Regions from separate parts of the Homo sapiens genome. Here all the other regions are linked to region 6. Evidence: fine-mapped QTL for protein levels in blood plasma. Region 6 holds a variant in brackets. A gene starts in each other region. All regions are shown on their forward strands.

The links. PIP is the chance, under the fine-mapping model, that this variant and not a neighbour inherited with it causes the effect. Protein levels are from antibody-based Olink assays in UK Biobank. Linkage for the fine-mapping came from a reference panel and not from the study's own genotypes, which makes the PIPs less certain.
Region 1: CFHR5 starts here. The variant in region 6 is fine-mapped to the plasma level of the CFHR5 protein (UK Biobank, PIP above 0.99).
Region 2: GC starts here. The variant in region 6 is fine-mapped to the plasma level of the GC protein (UK Biobank, PIP above 0.99).
Region 3: it holds the start of ERBB3, and the variant in region 6 is fine-mapped to the plasma level of the ERBB3 protein (UK Biobank, PIP above 0.99).
Region 4: TFPI starts here. The variant in region 6 is fine-mapped to the plasma level of the TFPI protein (UK Biobank, PIP above 0.99).
Region 5: it holds the start of ADGRD1, and the variant in region 6 is fine-mapped to the plasma level of the ADGRD1 protein (UK Biobank, PIP 0.97).

The regions. Positions count from the first base shown.
Region 1 is chr1:196,975,795-196,979,884 of GRCh38, forward strand. CFHR5 (complement factor H related 5) reads left to right here and starts at 1,762. Exons shown (of 10, transcript NM_030787.4): 1 at 1,762-1,928. The coding sequence starts at 1,871.
Region 2 is chr4:71,782,138-71,786,227 of GRCh38, forward strand. It overlaps GC (GC vitamin D binding protein), which reads right to left and starts at 1,942. Exons shown (of 13, transcript NM_000583.4): 1 at 1,824-1,942. The coding sequence starts at 1,881.
Region 3 is chr12:56,078,233-56,082,322 of GRCh38, forward strand. It overlaps ERBB3 (erb-b2 receptor tyrosine kinase 3), which reads left to right and starts at 1,933. Exons shown (of 28, transcript NM_001982.4): 1 at 1,933-2,150. The coding sequence starts at 2,069. RefSeq lists an enhancer at 1,590-2,580.
Region 4 is chr2:187,552,153-187,556,242 of GRCh38, forward strand. It overlaps TFPI (tissue factor pathway inhibitor), which reads right to left and starts at 2,283. Exons shown (of 8, transcript NM_006287.6): 1 at 2,048-2,283.
Region 5 is chr12:130,951,364-130,955,453 of GRCh38, forward strand. ADGRD1 (adhesion G protein-coupled receptor D1) reads left to right here and starts at 2,544. Exons shown (of 25, transcript NM_198827.5): 1 at 2,544-3,168; 2 at 3,261-3,297. The coding sequence starts at 3,103.
Region 6 is chr8:125,485,673-125,489,762 of GRCh38, forward strand. The region is part of intron 2 of TRIB1AL (TRIB1 associated lncRNA); the gene reads left to right. Among named protein-coding and RNA genes, the nearest start is that of TRIB1AL, 21 kb to the left of the region's middle. The variant C/G (reference allele first, on the strand shown) is at 2,117.

The sequences.
Region 1 (4,090 bases), not on the chromosome of region 6:
CTGCTGCTTCAATTCAGGCACAGGGCAGGTAGAGAATTTATTTGCAAAGGATTGAGGTTTTCTAAGACTTGGATTACAGATAGAAAGGAACGAATGGGCAGGAGAGTGTGTGCAAGGGACTGACTGACAGTGATGAGCCATGGAATCTAATTTAGATGTGGTGGGAAGAGAGAAAATGAAGGGAAGAGAATAGTGAAAAAGTGTCAGGGTCATTGAATGTTTGGAACAAATTTAGTAGAGTAAGTGAGCTAAAAAGATTGTTGAAATGGTCTAGAGTGTGATGCTTAATATTTAGATACTTTAGGTAGTGTAGTAATTGGAAATGACAAGGTTTAGATAGACTAGAATCAATAGTGGAGACTACTAATAGCTCACAGGGACTTCTCTGGTTTCTTGATTGGACATAGCTATGTGCATTCCCATTGACTTCTGAACCACCATAAGTAAGTTTCCTCTTAGTGAGATCATTAGGCTGTTTCTGTAAATTTCCCCATTAAATGTTAAATTTCTCTCAGGCTGGGCACTTTGTTGCTTGCTTCAGCTAGTATCCTCTAGTCTTCTCTGATTGTTTCCCACTGTAATCTCTTTGTATTCAATAGGATCCTCGGGCATGGACCTTTCCAAGCTATAAAGTCACTCTTCTCCAGCAGGGGAGCAGAGCTTCCAGTCCACATAGCCTGCCTGCCCATCCAGGGTTCAACTTCTGAGCCACGGAATTGGGCTGCGAGACAGAGGTGGATGAAAGCATCCGCTCTCTTTTACTGAATTTTATGGAGACTTTCTGGAAAAAATATTTCCCAACATTATGCTGTTTGGCCAATTTCCAGAGACAACCAATGGTTACTTTTAAATTTTTATCCAGTTTTATTGCTGCCTTTTGGTTGGGAGTGAATATACCAAGACCCTCACATAGCCATTCTCGAAGTCCCACCTGAACAAAATGATTTTGAATTATAATTCTGTTCTTCAAACATTTCAGGAAACGTTACTTGGCAAAAATTATTCTTTTTTTTTTTTTTTTTTTTTTTGAGACAGAGTCTCGCTCTGTCGCCCAGGCTGGAGTGCAGTGGCGCGATCTCCACTCACGGCAAGCTCTGCCTCCCGGTTTTACGCCATTCTCCTGCCTCAGCCTCCCGAGTAGCTGGGACTACAGGCGCCCGCCACCACGCCTGGCTAAATTTTTTTTGTATTTTTCAGTAGAGACGGGTTTCACCGTGTTAGCCAGGATGGTCTCGATCTCCTGACCTTGTGATCCACCCGCCTCGGCCTCCCAAAGTGCTGGGATTACAGGCTTGAGCCATTGCGCCCGGCCAGCAAAAATAATTCTTGATTAGACCTTTTATAGTTTATGAAATATTAAAACTGTTAAGAAGGTACCTAATTCTTAGTGCCAGTTTTAAAAGGGAATTTACAACTACAAAAGTGATATTGTTGTATTAAGATGAGGACTGATGACTTGCACTTGCTTGCCTTTTGAAACAGCTGAACCCTTGGCTAGAAAAAAAAAAAAAACCCAGGGGGCCGGCGGTGGGGAGCTTCCTCTCTCCTCTAAACAGTCCATTTCTGATTGTTCCAAACTCAGAGACTCGGTGACTACAACAAGGAAATTGAACAGCAGTTATTTTGCTTAAATAAATATTACATAACGAGCTGAGAATATTATTGTGAAGACACTGATTAGATACTATTTGCTTATTTCACACAACCCTCCATGAACTTTGATGTTTTCCACAAAGGGCTTTACTAAACTAGCTTCCCCTTAGTACATTGAAATTCAAAGTCATGCTTGTAACTGTTAATGAAAGCAGATTTAAAGCAACACCACCATCACTGGAGTATTTTTAGTTATATACGATTGAGACTACCAAGCATGTTGCTCTTATTCAGTGTAATCCTAATCTCATGGGTATCCACTGTTGGGGGAGAAGGTAAGTTGAAAACAGATCCGAATATTTTAGTTCCTTTTCAAATGTATTTATTGATTGTGTGTGTGTATGCATACAAATATTTTTAAATGAATAAATAGCTGAGGATAATTTGAAGGGGTATCACAATATTCATCTATTTTCTGGAAATATTTTCCAACATGCAATTAGCAGGAAAATTGAATGAAATTAATTCTCTCCGTTCTCTAGTTTGCTAAGGGTAAATGGTCACCAAATAGATAATGTAAAGAGAAATCAAAGGAGAGAAAATCTGCTATAATAAAGATGACAAGGTGAAATATTAGTGTAATTCTGCATAAACTCTGCAATGCCACTGACTAGAAAAATCAACCCCAAAAGATTTGGCCACCTTCATTATGTTTTGAGAATTTTATTTTCATAGATTTGATAATTTACATTTTAAATGTTATTAAAATGAAGGAATTCTCATTTCAGCCTAATTATCATTCAACAGGGAAATATATTTTAATGAAACAATAGAAAATATTATTTTTATATATAAACCAGTGAACTGCCAAAAAATTGTTTCTTCTGAGCTCTTCCACAAATTTCAAAAGTGAAATAATATATCACTTCTTTATTAATACTATAAACTGATTCTTATAACATTATAAACTATCCCATTTTATTTCATGTGGAAATTAAAGCCACTATATCAAAAGGATTGCAAACAAAATCTCTAACAAGGTCTAGGATACTGATTAAACTATGTGTGTACGTGAAGTTTCAATCATTGTGCTATATACTCTTTGATTTCCAGAAAGTTTTTATTTTACTGCTTTACTGCTTTCTAATGTTTACAGATCTTTAAATTTTTTGAACACTTTCTTCTCAGTCCTGACATAAGAGAAAAATATGAACCATAAAATGCTTTCTTTTTAAGATATGCCCTTACAAATGTTGCAAAACATTATTTCTATGGGCCTAAAATTCATTTTATTTTGTTTTCACTTTTAGTACTGAGCTATAATCACAAGAGTGCGATTGCATGAGTGTATTTGATTTTTCTTAAGTCTGTGTTTATGATATTTATTAAGTGGCTTAAACATCTGTTACAAATGGCATTACACAAGGATTTCTAAAGGGGGGTGGAAGCAGAGGAAGATAAGTGAAAATTATGAGGATAATATGTAGAATTTTGACAATTCCTAACCCCACAAAACTTTCAAGCTTCAGTCCAGTCCCAGGATAAACTTTAGTGAAATTCTATTAAAAGTTGTCTAGGTGTTAAATGACCTGTAAGTGTGCATTACACTTTTGTTTTGGTGTCTATTTAGAAACTGGCCAAACAGCAGAAATAACAGACGAAAGCAACACTTTTGTACAAATAGAAAACTGCATGCTTCCAGTAGCAAAACATGAATCAAGCAATATATTGTGCTTCATGCTGTAGCAAAGAAGCTGGAAAGAATATGACAACGCCACCCACCCCTCACTACTACTTAGAGTGTCCTAAAAGAAAAGCAAAATGTAAATAGGCAAATAAATTGCAAGGTTTTATATATAGGTAATTGTCTGTGTGTGTGTGTGTGTGTGTGTGTGTGTGTACACTCATACATCACTTAATGATAGGAAAACGTTCTGAGAAGTGTGTCTATAGGCAATTTCGTCCTCCTGCAAACATCATAGAGTGTACTTACACAAACCTAGATTGTATAGCCTACTACCTAACTAAGCTATACGGCCTGTCACTCCTAGACTGCAAACCTGTACAGCATGTTACTGTACTGAATACTGTGGGCAACTGTAGCACAAATGTAAGAATGTGTTTACCTAAACATATAAAAGGTACAATAAAAATACAATATAAAATATTAAGAATGGCAGACTTGTATAGGGCTCTTACCGTCAATAGGGTTTGCAGGACTGAAAGTTGTTCTGGGTAAGTCACTGAGTGAGTGGTGTGCAAATATGAAGGCTTAGCACATTACCATACACTACTGTAAACTTCATGAACACTGAATACTTGAGCTAGGTAAATTTATTTTATTTATATATTTATTTCAATATTTTGGGGGGAGCAGGTGGTTTTTGGTTACATGGATAAGTTCTTTAGTGCTAATTACTGAGCTTCTGGTGCACCCAGGATAGACTAAATTTATTTTTAAAACTTTTCTTCAATAATAAATTAATTTATGATAAGC
Region 2 (4,090 bases), not on the chromosome of region 6:
ATATATTTTGAAACAGGTGCTTAAATAAATGCTGTGGGTGGTCAGCTCTCTAGAACTATAACAGGCAGAGAAAACTGCAATTCAAACCAATCCCCCACAATACAAGGCTACTCAGAACCTAAGAGTTCTCAGAACTCCCTTAATCTGTACACTTTGTAACTTCCTGCCAGGAAGAACACAGCTAGCTTCTAAGTAAACTGCTGACTTGGTCTTTGGGTCATGCTCAGGTATTAGAGAATAGAGAATTGATAGATCAGGACTACTCTCCCCAAATATTGAAAGTTAATGCTTACAAGTGTATTATGTATGTCTCAAGATATCATCTGGCATATGGCACATGGGTTATAAGAATGAAGTTTAGATCTTCTAGGGGACTGACTGGAGGTTTTTAGCATCCATTTCATCAGAATCTGAGGACTGCTGAGAATGTTGAAATATAGATTGCAGAATGCTCTGTTATTCTCCAAAGGACACTTTCATTCTTTGAGGTGAAGCCAATGTGCACCTATTGAGTCAGCAGTCTAAGATGGTGATTCATGCTCCTGCTTATGGCCTCCATATATAATTCCAATTCCTAGCCATTATTGGACCTTCTGTGTTTGAAGACCCTGATCTGAACCTGCTTCAGTAGGATTTTTCAGGATCAGATCTGCCCCAGCAAATCCTTGGCCAAAAGAATAAGACTTAAAGGGATTTCTTGGAACATGGCCTATTCAGAGGTCTTATAAGGGACACAATTTATGTTGCTTTTTTATACCCTATGCTGTCTGGGAAAGACTTTGTAGTCTTACCTAAGGACGCATAGCTTACTTAAGAATTGATGGGTAAGACGAGTTAAAATAATTTGAATGATGAAATAAGACCAAGGAAAAGTAAATGTAAGAAGAAGAATAAAAAGTCAAGAGTAAGGTTATTCATGTTACAGTTAATAACTGATAATTCTTGGGAACACACATTTTATTCCACTGGCAAAACACATTACTATTATGAATAATAATGTACGAATTAGGTGAGGCTGTTAACTGACAGCACTAAATGAAAACCTTAATTTTACAAAGCAGGATAAATGCAGATGTCCCTTGTGAACATTAAAGAATCAGCCAGAAAAGTAAATTGAAGCTAATGATGAAAAGTTTCCCAGCTGTAGAATTCATAAAGTTGTATACTTCCCATAATCTCAGTCTTTATCATGTAAAAAAATTTTTAAACATTGCCCAAAGATGAACACACCATCTGAAGAATAATTTCAATGAAAAATATAACTGAATTATCTTATTTGTGGTTATGTTTCATAGCTATAGAAAAATTTTATGTGAGGGATATTTTTAAAAATACAATGCATTTTCAAATACTGCATGTATAAGATTCCTCTAAGGGGATCAAAGAAATCTCTAAGTTGACATCATGCATCATTGGCATGGTATATTACACTCAATGGTAATAAATATTTGAAGTCTGAATAAATGCTTAATGGTGGATCACAGTCTTTATTTGCATTATCTTGTAACAATTAGCAAATGTCTAATTTTAAATTATTCTCTCTAGGTCTTGCTTATCAACAAAGGAGGAAGAGATAATTGACAAATTATATCATTCCATTTACTTTCTTTAACAAGATTCTTGTGTTGATTTTTTTTGTCAATTCCAATTCAACATTACATGGCATCGTGGAGCTCTGATTAATGCCTCTCTGGTCCTTATCCCTCTCCCCAACATATTCACCAGTTCTTCTGTTTCTTACTTTTTATTTCATTTTTTAAGTGATAATATAAAATTAAACTAGTAAGAATTCCTGTAAATGGTCACAACAAAAGAAATCTTACCTCTCTCTAAAGCATGTCCAAATGCCACAGCAAGCAGTAGTACCAGGACCCTCTTCATTTTTCTACCAGAGAGTCTTGCAGCACCTCCTCTCTCCTGTAGGTGACCATGTAAAAGTGGTAGCCAAAAGTAATTGGTTTCCTTTTTACAAAGATTCCTGACTATGAATTAATCAATTATTAATCTCAGAAGCAACACAGAATTATTATTAAACACAGAAGCAAGGGGCTGTTATCTTTGGCCCAAAAGAGATAAAATAATATCAATCAAGGTAAATAGACACCCTGGGGATACTGTAGTGGAAAATCTAGGAGATTTTAATCATTAACTTTGTCAAACTGCAAAAGAGCCAAGGTATATAGATTATTTTCCACTGCTGTTCCTCACTAAAGTTTACTTAATATGTTAGTAACGCACACCTTCTCCCCCTGTATAGGGCTGTGTGTCTTCTTTGGACACCCCACCTTTCTCATATGTAAGTGGAAAATCGGAAACTCTGTCTTTACCTCTCTTCCTCTCTTTGTTTAAATCTACTACAAATAAGCATTACCTTAAAATATTGCAGACCAGATGTTCTAAGTAAAAGGGGAAAAAGAGTGAGAAGCCAATTCAACATAATATTTTAAATCCATAATTCTGATGCTATGAAGTAATCTTATTTTAGATGATGGCATAGTACTTTGTATTTCTATGCTGTATTGCACTTTGTGAAGCACTGACATATATATGAAAAATAACCTTTGAAGTGAGGCAAATAACTGGAGAGGTTAAATGGCTCACCACTGCCAATCATAAAAAGTTAGTGGCAAATCTTGGACTCCCTACAGTGATTTTAAAGCTCCTTCTACTAATAGTTTACAACTAGTATATTTTATGGGCATGTAATTTGAGAGCTCAGAGAGGCCCTGTAGGACATGAAATCCAACATCTTCATTTTACAGAAGAGTGAACTGAGCACTGGGTAAATTCTGTGACTTGTCTAGAGAGTCATAGGTAGATCATTCATTGGAATTAGATGAGTTCCACTCCTGGTTTTTGCAGTAGCCCTATTTTCAGGAAATGGTCAGGTACAGGTTGTTACACATGCTCTAAAATCAAATCCCTACTCAGCTTTCATAGCTGTGTAACCTTGGGAAATTTATTTTACCCCTCTAAGTTTCATTTTCCTCATATGCAATGTGGTGATAACTCAGTACATTTGACACAACATTGCTATGAGGTTAATTAAGGTAATCTGGGTGCAGGGCTCATGGTAACATCCATCACATAGTAACATGGATTAATGTCACCTATTACTCTTATTCTAGTTATTGCCACGTTCTCCCACTGGCTTTCCAAATTTATAATATCTGTGAAGGTCAATGAAACTAATGAGGCCATTGGAACTCAGTGGAAGAGTTTAAAGACAGCCCTGTGTCCAGGGTCCCGCAGATAAGTGATTTAAAACTTCATTATCAACTCAGTAGCCAAGGATTATCTACATGGGCAGAGTCTATCAAAATTTCAGTAAACCAATTTAGGTAGTTACATGTTTAGTCAGATTTTCTATCTATACTGAAAATCCTTGGGTGTTAGGTTCAGAAAATAGAGTCCAGCTAGTTGGAAAAAGATACCTATGCCAGATCAAAGCACAAGTATTTCTGTAAGGCCAGTGGAAATCCATATGGTCAAGGAGATAGCTTTCCTGTCCAAGAGCCAACTCTATCTTGTTCAAGGATCAACTTCCTGATTACTATAAATCTAAATTTTCAGTTCCCTTTGGCTGAATTCCTAGTTTACTGTGCAAGTTAATTTAAAAATGTATTTTAGTTCTATGGCAAATTATTTGGAAATGATACTCCAAATGAGTGTGAAAAAGTTTAAAAACTACTCAGAACCCCGGAACTCAAAAGAGGTAGGTAACACATTAGCATATTGATACAGTTTTCATTTTTCTTTAAGATAATACACTGTATTTATACTTCTGTATCCCTTTTATTCAACTGTATTTCGTCATCTTCTGATTAGTTCATTCAAAAAGACACACTCAGATTATTTTCTACGAATTTTGATACAGAGTTTAAGACCAGCTCATTCTTTCATTTTTTAAAAAATTAAACTTTATCTCTGCTTTTGCAATAATATTTACCACGTTTGTTTAATGATAAACTACATGTAGCAAGAATTGCAACATCTCATTTAGATGCCCTCTTGAGAAATCTCTATACGAGCTGCCAAATGCATTCTCTTGGCTGAATTTTCTAACTGAAATTCGGCAAAACAGGCTAGT
Region 3 (4,090 bases), not on the chromosome of region 6:
TTACAGGTGCCCACCATCATGCCCAGCTAATTTTTGTATTTTTAGTAGAGACGGTGTTTCACTATGTTGACTAGGCTGGTCTCGAACTCCTGACCTCAAGTGATCTGCCCGCCTCGGCCTCCCAAAGTGCTGGGATTACAGGCATGAGCCACCGCGCCCAGCCGAATGTTTTGTTTTTTAAGATGGAAGATATCCCAGCACTTTGGCAGGCTGAAGCAGGTGGATCATTCCAGCTTGGGCAACAAGAGCGAAACTCTGTCTCAAAAAAAAAAAAAAAGAAAAGAAAAAAAAAGAGAGAAAGAAACCCTAGGTAAAAGTCTGAGCCCCACCTCCCAATCACCTGATCACCTCAACCACTGTCACCAGGTGGATGACCTTGGAGAGGTCACACACTTCTAGTTCTGTAAAATGGGGAGTTATATTGCCTAAATCATATAATTTTTATGTTAAGTGACACATTCTCTAAGGCACTAAGTTTGAGGACATACTTTGTAAATGAAATGATATATGGAAATGTTTGTATATGTTAATGGTTTTGTTGTTGCTATTATTATTATGACTACTATACACATGGTCTGGAGAAAGCCAACCTCCCCAAAGCGGAGATTCTCCAGTAGAGAACAGGCCCTCTAGGTTGCATATCAATAGGGAGCATGTTTAAGGAATGTTAGCCGGTAGTCTTTGCTAGGTGTGAGGGGTGAAATTTTTCTTTATCAAGGCTCAACTGTTTTCGAAGTCTTCAGGCTTGAAGTTCTGGAGAAAACAACTAGGCTCTCCGGGCGAGATCCCGAATACCAGTTTAAGGGATTTGAAATGCAAGGCCGTCTGGGACTCCACTGCCACGGATGGGCACCAGGCGGCGCCGGTCGGATCCGTCCCGGGACTAGCAGGGCTTTGGGCAGCAACCCGCAGGGAGCCCGACCGCCTCTGGCCAGGTCCGGGCAGCTGGTGGGGGAGGTTCCAGAGGTCCACGCCATTCGTGGACGCAGTCTCTAGTGTCCTCTCCGCGTCCCACTTCACTGCCCCATCCCCTTTCCTGCGAGAGCCTGGACTTGGAAGGCACCTGGGAGGGTGTAAGCGCCTTGGTGTGTGCCCATCTGGGTCCCCAGAAGAGCGGCGGGAACTGCGGCCGCCCGGACGGTGCGGCCAGACTCCAGTGTGGAAGGGGAGGCAGCTGTTCTCCCAGGCGGCCGTGGGGGGCAGCAGAGGGGACGGCGACAGGTGCGGGAGCCCCTCCCGGGGTAGAAGTGGAAAGGCGGGCTCCGGGGTCTGTTCCCAGGCTGGAAACCACCCCCGCCCCCCATCCAAATCCCCGGGAGAGGCCCGGCCGGCGCCGGGTCTGGAGGAGGAAGCGGCCAGAGACAGTGCAATTTCACGCGGTCTCTGTGGCTCGGGTTCCTGGGCTGGGTGGATGAATTATGGGGTTTCGAGTCTGGGAGAAACTGAGGTGGCCTGGACGTGAGGCAAAAAACACCCTCCCCCTCAAAAACACACAGAGAGAAATATTCACATTCTGAGAGAAAATCCACCAAGTGAACCAACCGGCTAGGGGAGTTGAGTGATTTGGTTAATGGGCGAGGCCAACTTTCAGGGGGCAGGGCTTTGGAGAGCTTTCCACTCCCTCATTCATTACCCTTCCCTGGATCTGGGGGCTTTCGGAATCTCGACCTCCCCTTGGCCTATCTCCTGCAGAAAAATTAGGGTGAGCCCCATCCTCGATCTGCTCCGCCAAGTTGCGGGACCGCGGGGCGTGGCACGCTCGGGGCAGGCGGTCCGAGGCTCCGCAATCCCTACTCCAGCCTCGCGCGGGAGGGGGCGCGGCCGTGACTCACCCCCTTCCCTCTGCGTTCCTCCCTCCCTCTCTCTCTCTCTCTCACACACACACACCCCTCCCCTGCCATCCCTCCCCGGACTCCGGCTCCGGCTCCGATTGCAATTTGCAACCTCCGCTGCCGTCGCCGCAGCAGCCACCAATTCGCCAGCGGTTCAGGTGGCTCTTGCCTCGATGTCCTAGCCTAGGGGCCCCCGGGCCGGACTTGGCTGGGCTCCCTTCACCCTCTGCGGAGTCATGAGGGCGAACGACGCTCTGCAGGTGCTGGGCTTGCTTTTCAGCCTGGCCCGGGGCTCCGAGGTGGGCAACTCTCAGGCAGGTAAGTGGCGCGAGAGCACCGGCGGGCTCGGCACCTGGGAGCCGGAACCCAGTGCGCGCAGCCTCGGAGGGTATGGGCACGGTCTCAGGCGGCGCGGGGTTGTGGGTGCTGCCCCCGGTTTGCCAGGACCACCTGGGAGAGGGGCGGTCAGGCTCGGGTTATCGGCGTGGTCCGGCCGAGGGCGGCATTCCGGGACCCTCACGCCACCCTTCTCCAGAGCGTCGCCGACCCTCTAATTGGTCTCCCCAGAAGAGGCTGAGGCCGAAACAGTAGTTCACACTTCTGAGGGGCCCTGCAGGGAGGGGAGCAGGGAACTTCATTCTGTAAACAGGAGGTGCTTGGAGGTGGGGGCCTTGGCGGGAAGGGTCTCGGTTTGCTCGCCAACCCCCTGCCCCCCACCCGCGCCGATTTCAGCTACCCCTAGTTTCGTTGTTTTGCCGACAGGGCGGAGCTACAGAAGGTTGGAGGGGGTTGTTGTTCTCTGGTGTTGGAAAAACAGGAGCGGCACCTCCTCTTCCGTGAGTGAGCCTGCCCTGGGGAGGTCTGAGATTAACCAGAGGGCCAAGTTCAGGTGACATCAGGCAGGAGGCCCAACAGAGGCTGGCGCCCCCTTTCCTCAGTATAGCAGAGCTTAAGCAACATCTCTTTGTCAAGACCCAGGTCAACACAACTCATATTTATTGAGCATCTACTATACACAAGGCCCTGGGCCAGGAGCTGTAAGGGCAAGGATGTCCAGCCTCTGGTCTTTTCTCTCCCCAACCTGAGGATCAAGAGGGCACCTCTGCTACTTTCTAAGCCTCCTGCCTTGGGGAGTCCTTCCTGGGCTCAGCTTGTGCCTCCCGCCCCCATTTTGCTTATTGTCTGACACTGTCTCTAGGACCCTAGACAGAGCCCCGGATTGCTCTTCTCCAGTCCTCCCCCGACTCCCATGCTATCTGAGCCCACCCCTTTGGGGTGTCTCTGGGACCGTGGACACCTGAGGACTGAAGTTCTGTGGATCTCCTCCCCTCCCCTCAGATCTCAGCTTGGGGTTTGGCACAGCCAGGGCCCCTTCCCCAGTGTGGGAGTGGAAGAAACCACCTGTGCTTCCCTCACAGTTGCTGGGCCTAAATTTAGATCCTGGGATTTTTAGATGTGAACACTCCCAGCTGGTGGAGGGGGGTGGTCTGGGGACTGGCGTGGGAGGGAGCAGTGGAGTGACTGTATAACTGTCCCATCCAGACTCCTGCAATCTTCACCCAGAAACCCAGGAGTACCAGAGTCTGGCCACCCTCCCTGGGGAGGCAGGAGGCAGGCATGGTTGGGTCTCTTTACCCTTTATCTGGGTCCTGCAGCCTCTGGGCATCCGGCCCTGTCTCAGTCCTTCTATAGCCCCTTTGTCCTGGCTGTGATGGGGGTGGGGGATGTTGGAGGGGAGGCCTCTGGTTGAGGAGGGGCTGGAGATTCTGGCTCTATCCCACCCCTAGTGCTCTCTACCAAAGGAGGGCCTGTGACACTGCCCCTCCCTATGCTCCCGGTTCCTGGGTACAGCAGGGATTTTTATGATTCCCTTCCCCTGCCCTGCTCCCCAAGCTGCCTAGCTCCTCCCCAGAGGTGTTGTTTGTGCTCCCTTCCTGCCCAGGCCCTTTGCCCCCTGTTTGTGTAATATGGACTTTACCCTCAGGGTAGCAGGGAACTGGGCTACCTCTAACACTGTAGCCTTCCAAGCACAGACACAAAGTCTGCACAAACACTTATGGGCACGTGGGATAGATGGGGCCACCTGAAATACTTCCTGCAAGGAAACCCAACTATAGATTCCTGAGCCAGCAGGACCAATGTGTACGTGTTCGTGTGTACATTGTGTGTGTATGTGTGTGCCCACACTACTACTTCCCTGTGCAGAAAGCTTGGCTCCTCCCTTATCTGGGGAGAAGTGTTGGCACTATAACTTGGGA
Region 4 (4,090 bases), not on the chromosome of region 6:
TTTTTTTCTTGTATTAGGTAGAGATATCAGTTGAAAGATACCTTAAAATTTTGTGACACTGAATTTAATCAGCCAACCATTCCTAAGGAATTGATAGCATATTTACTATTTGGTTAGATGGATAGGCACTCTGGCATTAAATTAAGTCTCTAAAGTTGGCATTTTTTCTCCATTAGTTTGCCATCCTGCCCACTTACCTCTTGAATTTGAAAGATGTAAACAAAAGATTTCTAAAGATTAGAAAATTAATTTTTAAGATAATTAAGCTGTTTTGAAAATTAGAGTTTATTACAAAATATGTTATCATTTTATGTATTATTAATTTAACAATAAGTTTTATGACAGAAGATTTAAGTCAAAATAGTTGTACAATCAACAAGCAAATGATAATCATTTCCTTAAATGATTATCTGACTGATAAATGGACAATCAGTCAGACCATCAAACACCAGTTGATAACATAATCCATTTGGACAGGAACCACATTTCCAAAGGAGTTTTGATTTAGTCATTGGTGGTAAAACAAAAGATATCAGACTGTACCTTAAAAACAAAGAAACAAAACAAAACAAAAACTTGTCCAATTCAGTATACCTAATAGAGATAGGAATCAAATAGTAGTATATGTCATTAAACTTTTCCAACAAGATTCTGTGGTCACTTGAAGTAGAAAAACTTGGTTTTCCAATATAACTACTCAAATCAGTAAAAATAAATATTTTAAAGTTTTACTCTTATTTTAAAATTACTTGATTAGTTATCTGTATTTACATTAATATTTTTCAATCTTTGTTGATCCCTAATTATATTTCATATAATTTTATTAAGCTGTAGGCCACAAATTAACATTTCAAACTCAGCCAAATTTCAGGGACTATCCCTCTTTAGTTTAAGGATTAGATGAGATATGGACACTGTATATTGAAATAATCATGCACTAGAATGATAGATTTAAAATAATCTTTAAAATGTGTTAGGGAGATTTTGCCTCCCTAACACATTTTATTCAAAAGTTTTGCAGTATCTCTCAAAATTGTCACAACTTTCCCCCTTTCATGTAAATATTATGCTTTTACACATGAAATATGACTCTCTGGGCAGTATGTTTCCTGCTTGAGTTTTGCCCTTTGTGTTTATATTATCTCATGTTATACAAAGTCATTTTGTGACTAATTTCCAGAGCACTGAGTCACAGTGTGGCTGTTGCTTATCTTTTCTTTTTTCCCACATGGTAGTACTCTTGGCCCTTATTTTTGGTAATTATTTTATACTAATGAGTGCTTTTTCATAATTAAATAATTGTTTCTCTCATTATATTTCTGTGGTTGTTTACTGCTGTATTATATGCTTTCATTTTTCACTAGAAGCAAACATTTTATAACAGGAACATAACAGTACATCATGTAGGCATGTTATCTATTGTTTTAATTTACAAAATTGCACAACATAGACTTGATCGTAAGTATTCTCGTTTAAGTATCTCAGAATATGACCTTTGGTCTTTGGAGAATTGTAAAATATTTCCTTAGAGAGATTAGTTAATGCTGGCATAAAATATTCCATTTAGATTACGATTATTTTAATGGTTATACCTCATTTTAAATATCATCAACTAATAGTATTGAAAGATTATTTGAATAGAAGAATAACAGTCTCTATTTTATATGTTATGAAATAAAATGGAAAGGTAAACCGAACTTTCAAGAACTTCCAATTAACCAAGCACAATTAGTAAAGAATTCTACTACAATCTTCAAATTATAAAAAAGCTACATACACCAATTAGTTACAAAAATGTTTATGGTTTAAAATCATAAAAATTGCACATAAATTTGCTTAAGAACTAAATGCAAAATGCTGAGAACTCAAGTTTGGATTGCAGTTTGAGTTTACTCTGTTTACAGGGAAGGGCTGATTTTCATTTTACGCAAATAAACAGTGATCCTCCCCTATCAGTTCTTTGCCTCTCAGCACCCTGCTTTTCCCCCGAGAAAAAGAAATTAAAGTTATTTCTTATGGGCTAGACAGTATATTGCCAGGTACTCACAAGTAAAATCTCTGATGAAAGTTCTTGGAATGTTTTTTTCAAAACGGAGTTGAGGTTATTTTGTTTTTCCTTCCAGGTATTGAAGACAGGATTTATCTTCTCTACTTCTTCTTTTAGAAGCAGATCAAGAAACTGGCGATTGAAGAGTAACTGAAAGAAACGCAATCTGATCTTACTAGCAGTGAAAGAGCGAGGTAAGAATTTGACTATTATCCAGCCTAAAGTCGCTGCTGTCTGTTAGAGCAAAGAGGGAGCCTCAGAGTCGGCTTCAGAGATCACTGGCAGTTGGGAATAGCCCAACTTCCTGTTTAGGTCACTGCAACTCTGACTCTATTTAGTCTAAACCTCTTTTTTCTTTCTTTCTTTCTTTTTTTTAGTGGAGGAAACAGATGAAGGAAACAGCTTACACCAAGATTTCAGATACGATCATTTTGAATAGCTATTTCCTTTACTTTCCAGGATTGTTTTTGTAATCAGTTGAAAAAGAATGCTTTTTTCCCCCTAGAGTTAGGGTTTAAAAAATTACATATTTATTATTACACTGTTAATAAGCTTTTTTGCAGTTTGTTTCTTCTTCAAGTTATTTCATTTGTTTCACCCACTGTCAATGTATTTATTTTTTTTAAAAGTCTGAGGGCTACCGTTGGAGGTCTCTCTTAGTGAGACAATGTAATGCATTATCTATTGCAGGTGTCAGGCTTTGAGCCCTACCTTAGCTACTTGCTAACTTGGCTACTCAGCCCAGTTATTTGAATTCACTATGCCTCAGTTCCTTTGTTCCTAAAATGTCGATAATAAAAGTTTCTGGGCTTGATGTAAGTACTAAATGGCTTAATACATAAAAAGTACTTAAGGCAGGACCCAGCATGTAGCAAACCTCCAATAATTGTTGGCTATCATTATCGCTGTTTTCTGTATTTCTATTATTATTATTCTACAAAATATGTAAATATTTACAGATGTCAACCAGAGTCTCTGCTGTATGTCCCTATCATTGAGGTTCATCCGTACTGTCTCTGTATTGGAATTATGGTCATATCAGACTAAGATCACTAGAGATCTAATAAATGGGCAGAATCTACTTTGCCAGGAAGGCTGAAGACATTTGGTCAGAAAATGTAGGAGTTTCTTGCTTCTGCATCTCAGATTCTTTGTGCCTTCAATTTTTCTTGCTTTCCTTAGACCTCTCTGTAAAAGGTAACCTTTCATCTTGAGTGTTTTTAATACATATTGAATAATTATTTGGTGGTGACTGGAACATAAATTATCGATTTAATTCTCACAACTAGCTTATAAAGAAGGTCCTCTTTGTATGCCCATTTCACATGTCTAGGAAGATCGAGTTCAGTATGTGGAGCTGTGATTCTAATGTCATGCAGTCTGCCTTTAGAGCAAAAATGCATAAATCCTCCTCCATGCTGCCTTCTCACTCATGTTCTGGATTTCATATCATGTTAATAACTTATCTCCTATTACCTCATGCCCTGCCCCTCAACCACAATCAAAGCTATCATCTCACTCAGATTGTAGAGGAAAGTCCTTTTTTCTTGGTACCACCATGGACCTTGATTAAACTTTTGAGGAATCTGTAGCTCAGGTAGAGGCAAGCTCAGCCAATCAGATTTTCTTTCTTGAAAGTTTCGCCTCTCCTCCCTCTCCCTCTCCCTCTCCCTCTCCCTCTCCGTCTCCCTCTCCCTCTCCCTCTCACGGTCTCCCTCTCCCTCTCTTTCCACAGTCTCCCTCTGATGCCGAGCAGAAGCTAGACTGTACTGCTGCCATCTCAGCTCACTGCAACCTCCCTGCCTGATTCTCCTGCCTCAGCCTGCTGAGTGCCTGCAATTGCAGGCGCGCCGCCACGCCTGACTGGTTTTCGTATTTTTTTGGTGGAGACGGGGATTCGCTGTGTTGGCCGGGCTGGTCTCCAGCTCCTAACCGCGAGTGATCCACCAGCCTCGGCCTCCTGAGGTGCCGGGATTGCAGACGGAGTCTGGTTCACTCAGTGCTCAATGGCGCCCAGACTGGAGTGCAGTGGCGTGATCTCAG
Region 5 (4,090 bases), not on the chromosome of region 6:
TCCACCTGCCTCAGCCTCCCAAAGTGTTGGGATCCACCCCTCCGGGCCCACCACTGTTCTTTGTTCTAAATTTCTTCCTGAGGGGCCTGGAGGAGGTCATGCCCACAGGCCAGAGCTAACATTCTTTTTTGCTGATCTCAAATTTTTTGACAAAGCCTTGCCTTCTTAACCAATCACAAATCAGAAAACCTCTGAATCTACTACCTATATGACCTGTGGGCCCCCAGTTCAAGATGTCCTAGCTTTTTAGGTCAAACCAATGTGCAGCCTCCAGGTATTATTCATGTGGGACTTAGCCTGTAACCTCTGCCTCTCCACCTTGAAAAACCCTCCCCCATCAGCCATCGGGGAGTTCAGGTCTGAAGTGTGAGCTGCCAGGTTCTGCTCGCCTGGTGCCCTGCTCTAAATGCCTCACTTCCTCTCACTGCAATCCCGACGTCCATGTTTGGCTTTGCTGCGGGAGGGCAGAGCCAGGCTGGGTTTGGTGACAAACGCTGAGTGCTCACCAAGTACCAAGCCCTGTTCTCGGGGCTGGGGTGCAGAGCGAACAGGCAGAAAGAAGGTCTCTGCTCTCATGGGGCCTACGCCTCGGTGGGGAGAGACTGACAATAAATGAAATAAACGTCTAAGATATGAAGTACATTGGATCGTGGTTAGTGGGATCGAGAAAATACAGCAGGGGAGGGCTTTAGGGGGAGGGAGACCTGCTGTCAAGGTGATGTTTGGGTGCCGAACACCCCGACGTTTGGGTGATGGAATGAGATGCTCAGAGACATCAGAGTTGCTTGGTTCCAGGCCCATGGACCACTCAAGGCCCTGTCTCAAATCTCCAGGCTTCAGGACACGCTGCTTTACATGGAGGCGGGCTCTTCATCTGGGCCTCTGAACAAGGCCTGAGACAGGACGCAGGCAAATAGCATGAGGCACGAGACTGTAGTCCGGGATGGAGAGTCAGAGTGAGTCTGAGGATGAGTGCAGATGCCTGCAGGGCAAGCTCTGCTGAATTGCTTTGCTATCTAGTTTTTATTACAGTCATTGAATCGGGGTGTCTCCCATTATCTGATGACAATTTTATGATGAAAAGAAACCATGCTGGCTTTGTTCGGTCATGGAGATGGGAAAGGTCCGCATATTCAGCAATCTGTTGAATTCTTCCAGGTTAAAACTGGAGCTGAGAAAAACCTGCAGCTGCCTGTCCCTCCCTTCACCTCTTCCAGCGAGAGGCAGTGGGGGACTGGAGAGCTGATGAAATGGCAGAGATAAAGGTTGTAAATTAGTTTTCCCTGAAGCCGACCAGCCTGAGCAACAGGATAAAGGTCGTTATTACAGACAGCCCCCGGCCTTTGGAGTTCACAGTTTCTCCATTGCTAGGAGATGGAACTCTCTGGAACCCTTCTCCAGCTCCACAGAGAGGCTCAGGCTATCAGAGGATCTGAGCGGTTGTAGGCTGCAGGCACAAGTTAAAAATAATCACCTAACGTTTTGACAGCACTTTCTTTTTTTCTGTCCCACAGAGATTGGAAGTCATTTTCTTATCCTCTTTAGGAAGTATGTTGGATTCAGGATTCTTAATTCCCATTTAAAGTCAGGACAATTGAGATAACTGTATCAGCTAACATTTACTGGGTGTTATGTTATACTTGCTAATAATAATCATAGCTAACATTTACTGAGTGATAATTTTTCTTAATAGAAAATAGCAGCATTTACTGAGTGCCACATATTTTCCAAGTACTGCCTGAAGAGCCTTGGATCTGTCCTCTAATTTATTGTTACAGCCCTGAGGAGGAGGAACTATTAACCCCCATTTTGTGGATGAGGAATTCGAAAACTAAGAGAGATCAAGTAATTTGCCTAGGAGCACAGCTGGTGAATGTTGGAGAAAGTATGAAGCGGTAAATATTACTTAAATCACATAGCAAATATAGCTGTGACTGCAATTCTAGGGTGTGTGTCTCTGTGTGTCCACGTGTATTTGGAGTAGATCGGATAAACTTTGGTCTTGGGTAAACTGAGGCATGTCTGGCGAAGGGGCTGACTCTTTTCTATCCCATTGAGAACATCCTCCTGGTGCTGGGGTGGGGGTATATGTGGGATGGTGTAATTGCGCAGCGTACCTTGTAATTAATTCCGTAGCTTTCACTGACGTCCGAAAGGATTAGAGAGAAAAATGTGGTCAGCGCTTAATATGGAGGGCACAGTGGGTGTGCTGCTTTCTCTTTTCCATCCCTCTGTCAACTTCATTCTCTTTTGGGGGCAAACAAGACTCAGATCTAAACAGAGTTTATGGTTTGTTTTGCATTTTGTATTTATTAATATTTATGCCGACTTTGAAGGTGCTGACCAGAAGGCATCAGTAACACACACACGCACACGCACACACACCACACACCATGTCTGTTTGGTTTGATTCTGAGCCTGAGATCCTGGAAATATTTCAGCTGTTGTTAAGAGGCTGGAGTTAGGACCCAGGAAGGACACAGCAGTGGGGATATAAATAGAAAAGGAGAACAGAACAAAGTTTGAGGAGAGAGACTTACATCACTCACTCCCCCTCCACCCAGAGAGCAGGACGGAGGTGTGAACTTGAGCCAGACCAGAAGGAGCTCGAGAGCGGCCGCAGGACAAGCCCGAGGAGCAGGCGGGCGCTCCAGGGGAAAACCACGCACAAAACCTTCTTCAGAGAAAAGGGAAGCTCCAAACCTGACTGAGACAAACGGAGGCTCTTGAAATAAAAAGAAAATACCGCAGGACAAACAGCCTCCCGTCCCCGGGCGCAGGTCGCGGTCACAGTGGTGACCTGGGATTGCTTTCCCAGGACTGCGAGTCGGGTTTGGGTTTCTCCTCCCTGCATTCCACAGCTGCTCTGGTCATCGCAACGTGTTTATTGATCACTGAAGAATCTCAAGTTTTGAGACGAGGAAGAAACACCCATTAGGTCTCCAAGACAGCTGTGTTTCACAAACTTTAAGGAGACAGAAATTTTCTCCCCTGGAACCTGTGAAAATGTCCCTTTTCCAAGGAAGTGAAGGTTAAGAGGTCCCGTTCTCACAGACCCTCAGGAATTTCACTTGGCTCCGAGCTTTGACCTCCGAGAGAGCCATGGAAAAGCTGCTGCGGCTGTGCTGCTGGTACTCCTGGCTGCTGCTATTTTATTACAACTTTCAGGTAATGTCCCCAAGTGGCCAGGATGGCGACAGGCTTGGTTTCTCCGGAGGCTTTCCCTGAGTGTGTCTCACACTGTGGTCTTTTGTGCGCAGGTGCGTGGCGTCTACTCCAGATCGCAGGACCATCCAGGTAAGAGTGTTTCCTTCTCACTCTGAGCACCGCTCTCCCCCTGCCTAGTGCAGGTATCTCAGGAACAGCCCACTTGTTCATCTCTGAGGCATCAGCGAATGGCCCTTGTTGGGCTCCTGGTCCCCGACCTCACTGCCTCACCACACACTGTGACCCTGGGCAGCTCTGCTACCCCTCACCGGCTGAGCGGTGGATGGAGAAGTGGTTCTGGGCCCCTTGAGCTGGGTCATATGAAACATTGTGATTAAGGAAATATGATCTTCATTTGAATGCCTTCTGCCTCTTTCTTTCTCTCTTTCTCTCTTTCTTCCTTTCTTCCTTTTTTTCTTTTTGAGATGGAGTCTTGCTCTGTTGCCCAGGCTGGAGTGCAGTGGCCGCAACCTCTGCCTCCCGGGTTCAAGCAATTCTCCTGCCTCAGCCACCTGAGTAGCTGGGATCACAGGTGTGCACCACTACACCCAGCTTTTTTTTTTTTTGTATTTTTAGTAGAGACAGGGTTTCACTATGTTGGCCAGGCTGGTCTCGAACTCCTGATTTCAGGTGATCCGCCCGCCTTGGCCTCCCAGAGTGCTGGGATTACAGATGTGAGCCACCACACCCATCTCATGTCTTCAGGGCAGATTCACTGGTGGGGAGTTGGAGCTCTGGCCCATAGCAGGGTCTCGGGACCTCCAGCCTCAGAGTGCTGACCAGCTTAGCCTGGAGCAGCCGATGAGTGGGACTCGGGATAGAGGGCCACCCTTGCTCCAGCCCCAGAGCCACATTCCATTGGCCATTGTGACACCCAACCAGG
Region 6 (4,090 bases):
CAGATAAGCCATGGACAAGACCGCTTTCTAGTTTCCCCTCCAGGGATTCTGTTTCCTTCCTTTGGTACTGGTAAGGAAGCTTGGGTAAAGTGGCTGGCACTCAGGCAGCCTACCAGAGCTCAGTGGCTTTCTCCCAGCCTCCCATCAGATGCCTGAGGCCCCCTCCCTCCCCCACACCCCTGGGCTCTTTTTCGAAACACATAGAAAAGGGTCAGGAAGATGGGTTCTCTTCGGGCTAGAGATGTTTACTGGGTCAGGCTGATGGATTGCAAAATGGAGATTGGGCAAGGGTACAGAGGGCAGGACCCAGGATCTCAGGGCTATGGTTGGACCCCAGCAGACCCTAAGGCCATGGCCCAGTGCCCTGTCAATCTAGGTGATAGGTGTTCCTCAGATCCCATCACTTCCGAGGGCAGCGAAGCTCTGAGGGCCCCTTAGAGCCCACAGCCCAGGTGGTTGCGGGGCTTGAGGCACATACAGCGACGCCTGGCATCTAGTGAGTGCTCGCCCATGCTGGCTCCCGTCATTACCGAGTTCTCTGGCTGGCATTGCCATCCACCAGCTCCATCAGAACACGGCCCACCTGCACCCGGGCGCTGCCTCCCTCGGTGACTGGTCCCACCACGCACCCACGGGAGGGTAAAACTGGCTCTGCGGACATCCCGACATCCCGACATCCCCACATCCCGAGAGGGGCAGGGGGAGCTCTCAGGCCCTAAAATAGCTGCTGAGCAAGACTTGGCTTCTCTCCTTTGGGTTGAGAGTTTACCCGGCTTTTTGGAGATGCTAGAGTCTACACTGAGCAGGTTTCAGCAGTCAAATGTGTCCCTCCATTCCAGGAACCGAGGTGTTGGAATGGTAGCAATGGACATGGACAAATGGTGGAAGCAGGAGGCGGAAGAGAATCCGCTCAGAAGTTAAGAGGCCTGGACTCTCACACTGATCACGTGACTCGCACCTTCCGTTTCCCAGAATAGCGGCCACAATTCCTGCAGAATCCCTCCTGAGGGGTCTTGGAAAGATGCAAATGATGTAATGAGCAGAAGCAGGGGATTGACTTCCAAGCTCTGCCACTTATTAGCTTTGTGGTCACTTACGCCCTCCGCAAGCCCCAGTGTTTTCACCTGTACAATGGGGGATTACAATACCAACTGCCAGAGTGGATGCAGGTGGCGTGCAGACTCTAATCACAGCAGTGAATGCAAGAAGGAAGGTGGAAGGTGGTGGCGAGGTCCTGAAATGGGCGTCCATGTGGACTTGCACACACCGTGACAACCCCAGAAAATGGTTAGTGTTTTACACTCTTTCATCTGGATTTAAGAGCCAGTCGAGCATGAGGTGTCACTTTGCAGTGTGTTTAGGAGTCTCCCTGGTGAGACTGGTGTAGCACCAGACACTCAGGCAAATGCTGCCCAGTAAACCACAGTGGTCAAGAACGTGGATTCTGGAGCCAGACTGCCTAGGTTCAAATCCCGGCTTTGCCTCTTTCTAGTTGTGTAACATTGAGCAAGTCACTTAACCTGTCTGTATTTTATTTCCTAATCTCTAGAGTGGGGAGAGGAGCAGTGCCCTCCCCTCTCCCATAGGGCTGTTGTGAAAATTGAAATGAGTTAATGAATGTTTCAGAGCACTTGGAGCAGCGAGTTGTATCAGTGCTTCGTAAGTAAAATAAATGACAGGTCATCCTGGGCCCTTCCTCAAGGCCCAGCTCCCTATGTCTAGCGACTATCAGGGGGTGTAGACAAGGAGAAAGTAGCTTTTATTATTTATTTATTTCTGAGACAGAGTCTCACTCTGTTGCCCAGGCTGGAGTGCAGTGGTGTGATTTTGGCTCACTACAACTGCTGCCTCCCGGGTTCAAGCGATTCTCCTGCCTCAGCCTCCTGAGTAGCTGGGATTACAGGCATGCGCCACCACACCTAGCTAATTTTTTTTGTATTTTTAGTAGAGACGGGGTTGCATCGTATTGGCTGGGCTGGTCTTGAACTCCTGACCTCAAGTGATCTGCCCACCTCGGCCTCCCAAAGTGCTAGGATTATAGGCACGAGCCATGGCACCCGGACTTATTTTTTATTTTTATTTTTGTAGAGATGGGGATCTCACTGTATTGCCCAGG[C/G]TGGTCTCAAACTCCTATCCTCAAATGATCCTTCTGCCTCGACCTCCCAAACTTGGGATTACAGGCGTGAGCCACTGTGCCTGGCCAGAAAGCAGGCATTTAATCACTGTTATCCTCAAATGGTTAGGTGAGAAAAAGGGAGGAAGGTAGAAATGGCTTGCCTACTTTGGGCTTTAAAGAAGTGAGGTCTGTTTCCTGCACCTACCACTTTGGGAAATATTTGTTTTTTGGCAGCAGGTAACCAGAAACCAGAGCTGGTCAAACTGGGGCACACACATACACACCACCCTGCCCCAATCTCTGGTTTAAGCTCTTCTGGCCATCTGTTCAGGCAGGGTGGGAAAACTTTCACAAAGCAGGCAGGTCCCAGGCCCCCCAGGCCCCAGGGGCTGGCCTTAGAGTCCAAAGACCTGATTCTGGTTCTAGGCTAGCTTTGGTCCTGAGACAATGTCCTCAAAGCTCTCTGAGCTTCCGTCTGCCCTTTGGTAAAATGGGGATTGTCATTAACACACCATTGGAGATAACAGATGCAAACCTGTTGTAAACAGGAAATCTCAGTATGCTCAGAACGGTGGGTAAGGGGTTATCGGTGAGTAGAACTTCCAGGGCACCAGGCAACTGTCCGCTGTGAGATTTCTGCACAGCCTGGCCTCTGGAGGTGTCCAAACCTTCAGCTGCTGGTGTTGAGGCTCAGGAAGCCTGGCCTCTGGAGGTGTCCAAACCTTCAGCTGCTGGTGTTGAGGCTCAGGAAAACCTCACATGCTGGAACTTGGCAGGCAGATGACTGGCCATGGGCATTGTTGGGTGAGGCCATACCCATGATCTGCAGTCAGGAGACCTGAGTTCTTTTCTGGATCCTGCCACTGTGTGGCTTTGGGCAGGTCACTTCTTTGAGCCCCATCTCATCTTCTGCGAAATGAGAGGATGGTGGCAGGAAGCAATGCAGTCTGGCAAGATATAGGCCAACGAGGTAATATATGTGAAATAATTTTGCAAACCATAGGGGTTACAGCATGGAAATAGCCCTGGTCAGGAGTTTGGGCTCTAGCCCTGCCTCTGGAGCAAGCATGATGTGTGACTTTGGGCAAGTCACTGCTCCTCTCTGAGCCTCATTTTCTTCATCTGTAAACTGAGAGTCTGGGACTATATCAGTAGTTCCCAAACTGGATACACGTTAGAATCAACCTGGGCCAGGTGCGGTGGCTCACACCTGTAATCCCAGCACTTTGGGAGGCTGAGGTGGGTGGATCACTTGAGTGTAGGAGTTTGAGATCAGCCTGGGTAACATGGCGAAACCTTGTCTCTGCAAAAAATACAAAAATTAGCCAGGCATGGTGGTACTCGCCTGTAGCCCCAGCTAATTGGGAGGCTGAGGTGGGAAGATGGCTTGAGCCCAGGAGGCCAAGCCTGCAGTGAGCCATGATGCACCACTGTACTCTAGCTTGGGCAACACAGTGAGACCCTGTCTGAAAAAAAAAAAAAAAATCAACCTGAGAGGATGGATATAAGAGATGCTGATGCCCCCACTCCATCCCAGAACCACTTAATCAGAATATCTGGGGTGGGGCATTTTATAAGCTACCCAGGTGTTGCCAGTGTATAACCAGGATTGGGGATATCTGGTCCAGGTGATACAGGAGGTTCCTTTTGGCTTGAGCTTGTTTGATTTCTAGGAAGTTCTTGGGGTATAGAGTTCACAGATGCTTCCAACACTGGGGCCACCATCCTCCTCCCTGCTGAGAATGATAAATTCCTGCCCAACCGTGGAGCCTATGATCTCAACTCTGGCTGTGCACTAGAATTTCCTAGGAAGCTTTTAAAAACCTTCCATGACTCAACCCCACCCAAAGCAAGTTAATACAATCTTTGCGGATGGTTCAGCCCTAGTTTGAAAAAGCTCCCCAGGTGATTCTAATGTGCAAAGTGGCGAACCACTGCTTTGAGAACAGCCAATGAGCCAAGAAAACAGACAGC